Linked DNA regions of Homo sapiens. The protein of the gene in region 2 interacts with the protein of the main gene of each other region in a pairwise test. Each region holds a gene or a part of one and is shown on either strand. Other genes may lie near its edges.

Region 1 (7,028 bases), on a different chromosome or scaffold from region 2:
AGTAATGAGAACCCTTGTGTTTTTACCAGCAGGCCTATTTCTGACAAAGTTGTTATTATTCTAAAACTGAATTTTCAAAAAGTTGTTTTTGGTTTTACCTTGATTCAAAACCAAAGGAATTTGTCATTAAGTCACTTGTGGAGTTTTATAAAACTAGTCAAAATTTGGTGTATGTCCTCAGAGTACTTTTTGGTGCCATTGTTAGACTAATGCTTAATTTGGTGTTTCTTATGAAATAATTTAAATTTGACATCACTTATTATATCTGGAGAGTTGATCAAGTTATAAAAAGAAAAAACAACTTAGCAATCTACAAAATTCCTTTAAATTAAGGCACAGGGTGCCTGTTTGAACTAATACAAAATGTGTTTTGTTTCTTCGTAGGGAATTCACAATTGAAACTGAAGGGAAAACATTTCAGTTAACAAAAGACATGATCAATGTGAAGAGATTCCAGAAAACACTATATGGTAAATTTGTAAAAATAATAAACAAAAAGTCACTGCTCCTTAAAGCTTTTGTTGTTGTTTGAGACAGGGTCTTGCTCTGTCACCCAGGCTGGAGTGCAGTGGCACAACCTCTGCCTCCCCGGCTCAAGCGTTCCTCCCTCCTGTCTCAGCCTCCGAATTAGCTGGGACTACAGGTGCAGGCTACCATATCCAACTAATTTTTGTATTTTTTGTAGAGATGAGGTTTTTGCCATGTTGCCCAGGCTGATCTTGAACTCCTAGGCTCAAGCAGTCCACCTGCCTTCGCGTCCCAAAGTGCTGAGATTACAGGCATGAGTGACCACGCCTGGCCCTCATTCCCTGTCTTCTTTGGCAAAATAACTTGTTAAAAAGTCATTTAGGGGCCGGGCGTGGTGGCTTACGCCTGTAATCCCAGCACTTTGGGAGGCCAAGGCGGGTAGATCACGAGGTCAGGAGTTCAAGATCAACCTGGCCAACATGGTGAAACCCCGTCTCTACTAAAAATACAAAAATTAGCTAGGCATGGAGACACGCACGTGTAATCCCAGCTACTCGGGAGGCTGAGGCAGGAGAATCCCTTGAACCCGGGAGGTGGAGGTTGGAGTGAGCCGAGATCACGCCATTGCACTCCAGCCTGGGCGACAGTGCAAGACTCCGTCTCAAAAAAAAAAAAAAAAGTAATTTAGACCAGTGATGTTGCATGCTTTTTTAAAAGTTAAGAAGATGTTTTTTTGTAGAACAAATTCTGTGAATTAGGCAATGAGTAATTTGGAGCACGTATGAAGGATGCTGAAGTTTATTTGTGGCTGAATTGAAATTCCTGGAAACGGAGTAGTAATGGGTGTTTGAGAAGCTACTGCCAGTGGAAAGAGTGAGCATACCTTTCCTTTTGTTCTTGGCTTGTCTTGTAGCCAGGCTTCAGTGAGCAGTGTTAGGAGTAAGCGGGGGCTTCTCCATCACACTCTGGGGCTTTTCCGTCACAGTCTGGGGCTTTATAGCCATGATCCTGGCAGCTGGTTCAGAGCTGCACATCACCATTACTCAGATACCACAGAAGGATGGGAGGAAAATGCCTTGATCATGTTTCTAAAGTATTAACTCTTTATCATAGACAAACAGGCTCTCTTTTCCCATATGTGTGTGAGTTTTGGTACCAATGATCTCATTTCCCAAAAAACATAAACTCTTCCAAAGTTATGACCAGTTATCTTAGACCTGGACATTGCTTAGCAGTGCTTCTTCCTTTCCACATAATAAGTAATAATTATCAGTATATTTCCTGTGTATACCACGGGTGTTGTCTTACCCACATGAAGAGCTGTGAGCCCCTGTAAGATGTCTTTGATGGAGTGCTGTTCTTTGAGCAAACTCTCCCCTAAGGGCGTCCTGACCCCAGAACCTTGGTGATACAATGCCAGTAATTTGGTTCTGAACAAGTTCTTATCAAGATAACAAGCTAAAAAGTTAAACAAATACAAACCATGTAATACTTTTTGCATGTAGGAATTGTTTTTGTGAATTTTGCCAGCTGTGTTAGATTTTAAATTCTAGCAAAATCTTATTAAAAGCCTTAGATTTTTTATGCTTTCTGGGTAGCCGAGGCAGGTAATAGAGATAAAGTGTAGCTGCTGCTATTCGTAGTTTGCTGACTGGTGAAGGAATATTCTAGTACCTCAGGTTTCATTTTTACACAGTATAAACAGAATTTGGTGAAAGGTTTTTTCACTCCAGCTTTCTCTTCAAAGGCATGTTTCCTATCAGCAAATAGTTTTTAGGTATGTTCTAGTTTCTTTGTTCTGATATACAGAGATAAAAATCCATCTAGAATAGAGATATTTTTAGTGCTAAGAATTTTTTTCTTTTCTTTTCTTTTTTTTTTTTTGAGATGAAGTCTCGCCCTTGCCTTCCAGGCTGGAGTGCAATGGCACGATCTTGGTTCACTGCAACCTCCGCCTCCTGGGTTCAAGCAATTCTCCTGCCTCAGCCTCCGGAGTAGCTGGGATTACACGCACCTGCCACCATACCCAGTTAATTTTTGTATTTTTAGTAGAGACGGGGTTTCACCATGTTGGTCAGGCTGGTCTCGAACTCCTGACCTCAGATGATCCACCTACCTCAGCCTCCCAAAATGCTGGGATTACAGGTGTGAGCCACCGCAGCTGGTGAATTGTTTAGAGAGAATCTGAAATGCATTATGTGGTATTTGAGAGAATGTTATTGAATTTCTATCTCTTTTTCAGTGGAAGAAGTTGTTCCGAATGTAATTGAACCTTCCTTCGGCCTGGGTAGGATCATGTATACGGTATTTGAACATACATTCCATGTACGAGAAGGAGATGAACAGAGAACAGTAAGTTGTTGTGTACAGTGTGCTGTTATAGTGTCAGAAAATAAAAATTTTCTGAATTACATTGTGAAGTACATTAATAAGACTCTAGAATGGTCAATTAGTTATTACTATAATCTAGTGCTATTAACACTCATCTTTGCTTAAGTATGTATAGACAAACCAGTTTCCTGTGTTATCTTATTTGAGCTTTAGGTTATTCTAGAAGCTATTGTTTTAGTTGCCTGGTGCTCTCTATTCTTAGACTGAACCTATTACTTTGGGGAACAATCTATATTATGTCAATGGAAGGAATGGTACTTTCTGGATATGCTGTGTTTCAGAAAATTGGGAAGGATGAGATAACTCCTAGAATTTAGCCAGACCACTAAGCTGTATCTGTACTCTGGTAAAGTATCAAAGGGAACCCTCTCAAACTGCATGAAATTGTCTGGGGTACTTTTGGGGTAAAGATGTGAATTCCTAGGTTCTACTCTGGAGATGCTGATTCACTAGGTCTGAGACCCAGGGATCTGGGGTTTTTTTAAAAAAAATAAGAATCCTGAGTGATTTCACTGTGAAAGCTTGACAGATCATAAATGGGATAATAGTTGTCTGGGGTATAGCCTTTCCTAGCATTCAAGTATTGCTGAAGATAGAAGTTTATAAGAAGTCTTCATCAGCTCCCACAAATTTTCTTTTCGGTCTGATGCTTCTGAATCACTGCTCCTTGCCTTCTTCCTCTTTATCTCCTTGCCTTACTTCACCATTTTTACCTCACCTCTGCCTGCAGAAGTTACACTCCTGGGCAGATTACTAGGAAAGCCAACCAGAAGAATGGCTAGAAAGGAGAGGTTGTATATGTCAGGTTAATTGAAAGAAACAGCGTCATCCACTTGGCCATTCTAAAGCTTGAGTGTACGTAATGTTAGACATCAACCGTGTGGTTCTTTCTAGGACATTTAACCTCAAAGAATGAACTAGTGAGTTCTCGGCACCAGTACTTTAGTCTGACACACTATTGTAATACATAGCTAATAAAGTTAGTATGGTACTCTCTGCCCTAAAGTTGCATCTTCATTTCCCAACCTTGAAGGAGCAGCCCTATTCATTCAACAGATTGTAAGAACCTGGGCTAGGCCCCAGGTGCGCAAACATAAGGCTTGGTTCTTTTTGAGAAATGATGACAAACATAACTGCATGTGTTCTTTTTAGATGTCAAGTCTGCTTCAAGCTTTGTCTGCTTATTTTTCTAATAAAAAGGTTTTAGAAAATCTTTTAGCTGTTCCTTTGAATCTAACAATATTAATATAACTAGAGCTTTAATAGAAATTTCGTAAGGGCTAAACAAGAATAAATTAGTCACAGTGTTTTATGAATTGCATGAATTCCCATCATGAAGAGAAATTTGATTAGGCTGTGGGAAGCCAAAAATGTTTCTAAATTATTAGCACCTAGTTCCTCAATCCATTTGCCTATAAATTTGGTATAAAAACATTGCTAGTGAAATTTTAAAAATTATTTTTCTATAAAGGCAGGTCCCTGTTACTCTCTTATATTAAATAGAAATATCACAAGATGGAGGAAGGGAATAGAATTCTGAACCTTCTGTGATGTGAGCAGCCATATTGGTGGAATACAGGCCTTACTTAGAGTGGGATATTCATTGCTTGGCAATAAAGGTTAATTGAACTTTGGGTGAGAGGCTAAACTGGAACCTGTGTCATTCATTATTTTTATGGGACAAATTTATTCTGTGTTTTTGCCTTCAAGTGAACCTTTTGTACAAGTATTAAGAACTGCCTTCAGTTCCCATTTCCAACCTAAAGTGGTTGATTGGTTTGCCTTCCACAGAATATTTTTATTTTCGCCTTTTTTTTTTTTTTTTTTTGGTCTCGCTTTGTTGCTCAGCTGGAGTGCAGTGGCACAATCTCAGCTGACTACAGCCTCAAACTTCTGGGCTCAAGCAATCCTCCTGCTTCAGCCTCCCAAGTAGCTGGGACCACAGGTGCGCCTCACAATGCCCAGCTAATTTTTTAGTTTTTGTAGAGATGGGGTCTTGCCATGTTGCCCTGGCTGGTCTTGAATTCCTGGGGTCAAGCAATTCTTCTGCCTCAGCCTCCCAAAGTGCTGGGATTACAGGCATGAGCCACTGTGTCCAGCCTTATTTTTGCTTTCTTTGATTTCTGAGTTACTCAGAAACTATTTCAGGGCAGTTTAAGAAGGCTGTACTTTTTAGTGTAGGTATATGGAACATCTTTTTTTGTTTTGTACTATTTCTTTTGGACATATGTTTGTGAGCTAATTAAACTTTTCTGTTTCACTTGGTCACTGAGGTTCATAGGTTTTTCTCTTAAAAGACAGAATGGGCTTTGGTTTGGGTCACTGCCACTTGTTTGAATATTTAGGTAGTCTCCACAGAAAGTCTTTTATGTGGAACCAAAAAATTACCGTCTTTTATATACAGTAGCTTTCAGAATGCTTTCACATCATTTGACTTTTTTAGTAACGGGCTTGTGAAGCAAGCAGAGCAGGTGGTAGAGACCTGCTTTTTAGGTGGAGAAACTAAGGTTCAGAAAGAGTTCATGACTTGGCCTAAATTCGGAGCTGAAACCAGGTGTTTCTGATGCTGGTTCTGCTTCTCTTTTGCCATACTGCTTTTCATGTCATGTTTTCTGGCATTTTGGTAATGACGTTATGCTTGAACACTTGCTGAATATTAACCTCTTTTGGTTTGGGATATTAGCATTTAGATATTTACAAATTAACATATTTGGATTTTTTTCTTTTTAAATCATCCAGTTCTTCAGTTTCCCTGCTGTAGTTGCTCCATTCAAATGTTCCGTCCTCCCACTGAGCCAAAACCAGGAGTTCATGCCATTTGTCAAGGAATTATGTAAGCAAATTCAATTGGGTAAACTCCATGGGAACACCATCAAGGAGACTGAATTTTAGGAAATGTATCATTTATTTCAATAAAAATATAGACTGAATAAAGAATATAAATGATTTTATAAAGAGTACATGATTTTAGCCTGTACTCTTATTTCTAAGCGAGAGGATATGCTTGCTCAGATGTTTTATTCTGGCATTTGAGTGAGGCAAGGTAGGACCCAAGAGTCAGATTTAAAAATTATTTACTTCTCATACTGACCTTGGTGCCAAGTTCATCGAGGGAACCTGAGTGGAGTGTAGCAACCATAATGGATCTACAGCCACAGAATCCACAGCCCTGAAAGGAATCCTGGTGGTCATCTGGCACATCCACTTATTTCAGAGCTGGGAAATGGGGAGAGTCCATTGACCTGCTTAGAGCCATAAAAATAGAGGTGGTGGAGTCAGGACTCACCTTCTGGCCTTGGCTCTTGGTCCCATATTTGTTCCCCCTATAGCTGTATCAGATGGAGGTATGAGTGAAGATTTGGATTCCCGCAAGGGATTTATTAAACTTTAGGGATATTTCTTTCTCTTGCAACTCAACTTGTTGCTTTCTTGTCTTGGTCCCATTTATAAGTCTCCTGAGCTTGTAAGACAGTAGTTAGATAACACTGGGCTTAACTCCATTGTTTTATTTTTAATTTACTTTGTTTATTTTGGATAGCGGAAGCCCTGACCAGGCATGGAGTATCTCACAAAGTAGACGATTCCTCTGGGTCAATCGGAAGGCGCTATGCCAGGACTGATGAGATTGGCGTGGCTTTTGGTGTCACCATTGACTTTGACACAGTGAACAAGACCCCCCACACTGCAACTCTGAGGGACCGTGACTCAATGCGGCAGATAAGAGCAGAGGTATCTGGCCTTCTCTTTGGCATTTTTAGCCTTAGAAATGTGTACTGCTTCTTACTGATTTGTGTTGGATTTTGATGTGTTTATGCTCCCTTTCCTTTTTTTTTCTTTTTAATTTTAATGAACGGCTTGTATCAGACAGAGCCCAGATTCTCAAGTCCCCCGGTTTAATTATGAAAATATCCATTAGCACTTCTCTAATATTTTATAAACATTTGTGTTGCTCCAGGCTTATTCTCCAGCAGTTTGCTTTTATACTTGTTTGTTTATTGGGCAAGAGAAATATGATCCTAAGAATTTGTTGCCATAGTTTTATTGGTAGGCTTTGGAGGGTTAGACATTTTAATGTTTTATTTTTACAGACGCGTATACATGTGTATGTATAAGCTTTTCCGTGTTCATATATTCAAAACAGTGAATCATGTTTCAGTAGTTTTGGTCAA
Region 2 (7,028 bases):
TCATTTGATATACCAATTGTATCTATCTATATATAGTACCTATCTATATATGTTGATATCATGATATATATGACATATATGATATCAATTGTACAATGGATATACTGTATTGAAAGTAAACATGTCTTTACTTTCTTGATCACGCCTGATGATGGCTGGGGGACAGTGTAGATTTTGGAGGATATTGCTTAAAAGACAAAAAAATTAATTCATGTAGAGATTCAAGGAAAATATAGGTTAGGGAAGATGAATACATCTTCATCAGAGTTTGAAGAAAGAGGCAGTAAAACTTAATGGTTAGGAAAATGGGTTCTGACGTCAGACAGACCTAGTCACAAGCTGTGTCATCTCCATCAAGTTACTTAATGCAAGGAATTATAAAATACAGCTTTTATGCAGATTAAATGAGATGCTGCAGGGAGAGCACTTGAGGCACAGTGGTTAATACATAGTCGTTTGTTCAATTAACATGGTTTTTTCTTAAAAGAAATTCATAGCAATGGAGACAGAAGGGTCGCATCTCTTTCCATAGATGGTTCACTGATTCTACATTGAACTTTTTAAGGGTGGAACTAGCCTGAACATTCCTGACCTGTGACTTATCTGTGCCAACAAACATTATGGCATGGTCTCCCAGAGAGAGCAAAAGAATTCCAGGAGTGAAATAGGACCGTAAGCATCCTTCTCTGCCTCCTCAGAAGGCCAAGAACAATAGTGCTACCCAAACATCTTTTCCTCCATTACTCAATTTTTCTCCAATTGTAAATACCGTATTTCTCACAGTGTTAGCTCAAAGCTTCATTTAATGCATAATTTATACTCATGACTTTTCTGTCATATATGACAAAGCACATCCCTGGAGCCTGTAAACCTCTCTTTTTTCTTATACTGGTGTGAGACTCCTTCAGGAGGCAGCCCCAGGCAAGCACCTGGCCCACTTCCATCTAAGACAGTACCTAAATCTCAAGCTTTCAAACTTGGCTGTTACTCTCACTTGCTTTCAGCTCCATCCACCAGGCCAGATATGACTTGTCAACAGCTCGGCTCAGGGCTAACACTGCTATTTGCCACTGCTCCCGGCAACTCCACTGATTTTAGCCTTTTCATGAATAAAGCTTCTTAATTGACCTCAGCTCTCTTTTCCACTGATCCTGGTCTTTGACTTGAAATCCTTCCAGCTGTACGGCACCAGATAGCCATGACCAACCAACCAAGATGGCTACACAAAGGAAACGGATTTGCCATCTTTTATCATATAGTACTGTGGACCTTAGAGTCACTCAAATCCCAACTTACAGTTGGTTCTCCCAAGGGCTGAGATATTTATGTATGATGTTCAAAAGATAACGTCAAGATTGAATACTCTTCCATGTCGTGATGGAAGATTATTCAATGTTTGATGTCAAAATTAGAAAAGAAATCCTCCTAATGCATGTGTGGTAATGATCAATGCTGAGAATTTTGATATCTATATTATAAAGATAAAAGCATGTGATAAAAAATCCCAAACTGTATAAAAGGTAAAGAATGCCAAGTATCTCCCTCTTGCTTTAGATCTTTAGTCCTACTTTTCAGAAATAAATATCATTAACAATTTTTTATAATCTATTTGAAAAAGTTTGCATTTATACTTATGCATATATGTAACTTTTTCTTTTTATTAAAAACACAGAAGGGGCTGGGTGCTGTTGCTCACACCTGTAATCCCAGCACTTTGGGAGGCCAAGGTGGGCAGGGCAGATCACTTGAGCTCAGGAGTTCGAGACCAGCCTGGGCAACATAGTGAGACCCTGTCTCTAAAAATAAAAAATAAATAAATAAATAAAACATTAAATTAAAAAACTAATGGTAGCAAACTATGGACTATATTTATGCCTTTTTAACTTAAAGTACAGAAGTGATAATCCTTCCAGATTAGCACATTCAGATGTAACTCATTATTTTAACATATCTGCAATATTCCACAGAATGGACAATAATTTATTGAATCCCTTATTGGTGGATTTTTTTAGCTTATGTTCAGTCTTTCCTATAAGAAACAATGCAGCAATGATTATCTTTACATGTACAGAATTGTATGATGTGTGGATTTGTTTGTGAACACACTCCTGGATGTCAAATTGCTGAGTCGCAGGGTATGTGCACCTATAATTTGAATGGACGTGGGCAAATTGCCTTCTACCAGGGTTATGCAGACTCTACTACTAGCTGTGTGTGATGGTGCCTGCTTCTCCATTACCTTGGCAACATCGTGTATCAACAACATGTTTCATCTTTGCCAGCCTCACTGCTGCTTTAATTGGCATTTTCCTAACTAAATAAGGTCTACCATCTTTTCACACATTTATTTGCCACTTATTTCTCTTTTCTGTAAATTGCCTATTCATAGTCATTGTTCATTTTTCTTTACTTTTTTTTTTTTTTTTTTGACGGAGTCTCGCTCTGTCTCCCAGGCTGGAGTGCAGTGGCGCTATCTTGGTTCACTGCAAGCTCCGCCTCCCGGGTTCACGCCATTCTCCTGCCTCAGCCTCTCAAGTAGCTGGGACTACAGGCACCCGCCACCACGCCTGGCTAATTTTTTGTATTTTTAGTAGAGACGGGGTTTCACTGTGTTAGCCAGGATGGTCTCGATCTGCTGACCTCGTGATCCGCCCGCCTCGGCCTCCCAAATTGCTGGGATTAAGGCGTGAGCCGCCGCGCCCGGCCCATTGTTCATTTTTCTTTTGGGTTGTTAATCATCTCCTATTCATAAGAGCTCTCTCATATAGTAAGTAAACATACCTTTTTTGGTCATATGTATTACAGATATTTTTCCTCAGCTTGTCATTTGCCTTTGATTTTGCATACAGTATTTTGATCTATAAAGAAACTTTTACTTTTTATGAATAAAAGTAATGTATATCAATCTTTTCCTTTATGGCTTCAGGGTTTTATGTTTTATTTAGAAAATAATTCCTCATTCCAAGATAAATTTTTAATGGTTATTTGTCTTTTCAAGTTTCTTTAGCTTCCTTTTTTTAAAAAATTTAACATTTACCATGTTGGCCAGGCTGGTCTCGAACTCCTGACTTCAAGTGATCTGCCCACCTTGGCCTCCCAAAGTGCTAGGATTACAAGCGTGAGCCACCGTGCCCAGCCCATTTTGTATTTATACTTGTGTCCTAGGAGTTGAAATATGTATTTGGGTCTTAAAATCTGAATTTGTTTTTGGGTCTGTTTCCATATTCTATCCTGTTCAATGTTCTGTCTTTTCCACATTGTTTTGATTTCTGTATTTGTGTTTCACTTTAATATGTTGGTCAGTTAATCTTTTTTCATTATACTTCTTCTTTAGAATTTTCCTGGCAATTGTCATATGATTTTTTTTCACTGGAAACTTAGAATAGCTAATCTAGTTCTTGCCCAAATCCCAGAAAACCCTATTGGGTTTTTTATTGGGATCTCATTAAATTTATCAATTAACTTAAGGAAAATTGCTAACTTTACATAAGGTATATCTTTCCAATTATTTGAATCTTTTAAAAATCATTTAGGATACACTCTTCATAATTTTTGTTAAATTATTCCTTCCTTCCATTTGCTGTTGTCATTGGTATTATAAACAGGATCTTTCCTTCCATTAATTTCCTAATTGGTTATGTTTTGCATATAGGAACGTTATTACATTTTGTTTTAATTTTAGAAGCTGACTGCATTCTCTTATTATTTCAAATAATTTTTCAGCTGATTATCTTAGGTCCACTTATTAGCTATTGATATCTTTTAGAAACTAACTGGTCAAGTTATGCCTTTCTCTTTTTTAATCAACATCTGTACTATATACAATGAACCCTACAGTTGTCTGCAGGAGAAAAGGAACTAAGTGTGCAGGGTGCTTGTGTGAGATGCTCAACAAAAGGAGAATTAAAACAGAATTAGATTGTTTGTTGATGTCACAATTACGAAAGGAATCACCGATCCATTTTATGTCAGAGATAGTCAAGGCCAGGGATTTATAACACAATCATAAAAAGAGGCTCTCTCCCTACTCTGTCAATTTTTAAAGCAATCGATGTACAGTGTCTTGGTGCCAGCCATTTATAGGATAGATGCTGAAAATGTCGAATAGTAAGCATCCCACACTCTCACTAGAGGAACAAGATAATTGTTTCAGTATTTTAAGGTTGATAATAGTGACAGCAGTTGAAACTAAGAAAACATACCAGTATATATGAGGCTAGAACCCTAATAGGAATGTGGTCCTTTTTTGATATGGTACTCTCAGTAGCTCCCAAACCCTCATCTGTAAAGCACTGGTAGGCGAGGCCTATGGCCATGTCTGAGGGCCAGAGAACAACCCCAGCATGTGGAGCCAAGCATGGAAAGGAGTCAAGGGCAAACCACACACTGAGCCCTGACACTGGTGGTAAACCAGAAGACTTTTCACCTGAATCTCAGACATAATTAAGAGGATAATGGATGGAGAAGATAGGTGATTGTCATCTCGGAGGAAAGGAAGATGTCAAACCACAGCTAATTTGATGTAGGGCAGATTGAACACGTTGCTGCCAAAAGCTTCTACCTGAAGCCAAGAAACATAAGTTGCATTGGCAGCAGTCCGCAGGCTTGCTGCATCAACTCCGCTGCGACCTACTCATTGGGCAAAAGGTAAAGACGATGCTGTGGTGCTCAAAAGAAAGCAGTGGAGGAGGAATCTGTGTTCAGATGTGGGGAAGATTGGAACATTCTAGAAACTGAGGCTGGGGTGTGGCTATGGATATGTTGACTATATGACTTGGGGCTCTGTGGACCCTCAAGCTCTAGAGATTACCCTAATGTCACATGACTTGTATAATTAGATGAGCTGACTCTTTGGGCTCTGACATTTGTCTTGGAGAGGGAGAGAGCTGATTCAGTGCTGAAAGCCTTGCCGCAGCAAAGAGACATCTGTGTCACCCTCATTAATACGTTCCCCAAGGGTTTGGATGAAGACCAGTGAGTTGAATTTACAGGGAGACAGGGGTGCAGCTTAACATAGGAAAGACTCTTCTGTTCATAAATTGGGAGAGAGGAAGATCTCCAGCCCTAGAAGTGACCAGGCATACAATGGGACCATTGGCTGGAGGTGTTGCAGAGAAGTCTGAAGCATCAAACTTATGTCTAAACTTTCTAGCCTTTAAGAAACCTTTCAACCCTGAGCTTCTGTGATTAAATATACACAAAATGTATATATGTTTTCATATATATATAAAATGTGTGTATAATTTGTGATTATCTTGCTTCTTATGATAATTATTATTACTCTTATTATACTTAAATTTTTGAGTATTTATGAATGACAGGCATTGTGTTGGGCTCTTTAAATGTACGATCTGTATAGGGTAGTTATTGTCATTTTCCATTTTCTAGATAAGGAAACCAAGCCCAAGGGAGGCCAAGAACGTCTCTGTCACACAGATAGTAGGCAGCAGGGCTGGGATTCAATCCCTGTTCTGACTGCTGAGCTGCCGAACTATACTTACATTCCACTTAAGAAAACAGGTACACACTTAAAAAGCTTACAGCAGTTTGCCAGTCTGAGGACATTGTCTACTTGTACACAAGGAAGATTTTATCCTTTTAAATTTTGATTGGTCTGTTTGCTTGCCCTAAAGAATAGTGAATCAGAATCAGACTCTGATAGAGAAAGAGGTAAGGATCATAGATGTTCAAGCTTAAGGTGGTAAACCAGAATGTGGGGACACAGTGAAATCATGGAGAACATACAAGCAGCAGGGCCACCAAAAACTTGACATTCAGACTGTTGAGCACAGTTAGTACAGACTTTCTGTTCATTCATTCTTTCCAAAAAGTTAACAAATAGCTGTGAATTTAATGTTAGTGTGCAATGGAGTGTAAGCTGAATACATTTCAAATAAAACCCAAGCACCCAATCAGAGCTGTTGGTGCAGTCTGCTCTGTTTCCTTGTAAAGCTGAAAGATGCATTATTTCCCCTAAAACTACATCTTACTTACTTATTCTTGATACGGTTAACACAGCCATTCTAACTGGCTGATTATCATGCTAATCTTCCAGATAAATACAAGCTTATTGATTTTTGGTGCCAATTGCACTTTTTCCATGGAAAGGAATTGCTAGGCTATTAGAGGTAAGGGAATGTTTCTGGAGCAAGGGCAGGAAGGTAGAGTTGCTAGGGAAGGGGATGAGGGGATGGAGAGAAAGGAACTAGTGAAGAGTTGGTTGAACAAGAACCATACTGGGGGCAGAGTGAAGAGAGGTAAGGTGGTAAGGTATGAGCAATGGGGAGGAAGCAGTACTTTATAAGGGGCACAGCCAGAACCTAGAAACACCATCTAGGGCCTTGGCCACTGGCGGAACTGCAGTTCAGCACTGCTCAAGGCCCCTGGACCACTCAAGACAGAGGTAAAAGCTTTCTCTAGAAAAATTTGGGACTAGAGGCAACTCAACTAGGATGGTGATCATCCCAGATAAGGGCACTTGAAATTGCATCTTTCATAGACCCCTTGGGATACCATTAAAGACAGAAATTTCAAAATAAGACTTTAATAATGCTCTGAAAAGAGGAATCTGGTACAGCGCCCTGTGAATTTCCTTGTGTCAAATGCAGGGGCATTTGGGTCTCTGCCAAGGGATGCGACTATGTGTGGTCCTTGCACTGCGAGACAATGGGCCGTCCCCAAAGCACTTGATACCTTCTAAATTCTTTCCCAATACAGCTCTGCCTTCTCCCACCCCTTGAGCCCTCCTGGGGTAGAAAGGCCCATTTCTCTGTTCAGCCTCCTGGCCCATTCCCTGCTACAGAGCCTTCTATTTTTTTTTTTTTTTTTTTGAGATGAAGTTTCACTCCTATCACCCAGGTTTGAATGCAATGGCGCGATCTCGGCTCACTGCAACCTCTGCCTGTTCAAGTGATTCTCCTGCCTCAGCCTCCCAAGTAGCTGGGACTACAGGCATGCACCACCATGCCTGGCTAATTTTTTGTATTTTTAGTAGAGACGAGGTTTCACCATGTTGGCCAGGCTGGTCT

Evidence for each region. Proteins that work in one complex are often made in the same cells at the same time.
Region 1: the proteins of BATF (region 2) and GARS1 interact in binary tests that used the Homo sapiens proteins (3 or more experiments, as listed by UniProt).

The regions. Positions count from the first base shown.
Region 1 is NC_000007.14:30,625,850-30,632,877, forward strand, and holds part of GARS1 (glycine--tRNA ligase isoform 1 precursor), read left to right. Parts: intron 1-384; coding exon 385-470; intron 471-2,710; coding exon 2,711-2,820; intron 2,821-5,598; coding exon 5,599-5,692; intron 5,693-6,397; coding exon 6,398-6,588; intron 6,589-7,028. UniProt on the Homo sapiens protein: Catalyzes the ATP-dependent ligation of glycine to the 3'-end of its cognate tRNA, via the formation of an aminoacyl-adenylate intermediate (Gly-AMP).
Region 2 is NC_000014.9:75,525,462-75,532,489, reverse strand, and holds part of BATF (basic leucine zipper transcriptional factor ATF-like), read right to left. Parts: intron 1-7,028. UniProt on the Homo sapiens protein: AP-1 family transcription factor that controls the differentiation of lineage-specific cells in the immune system: specifically mediates the differentiation of T-helper 17 cells (Th17), follicular T-helper cells (TfH), CD8(+) dendritic cells and class-switch recombination (CSR) in B-cells.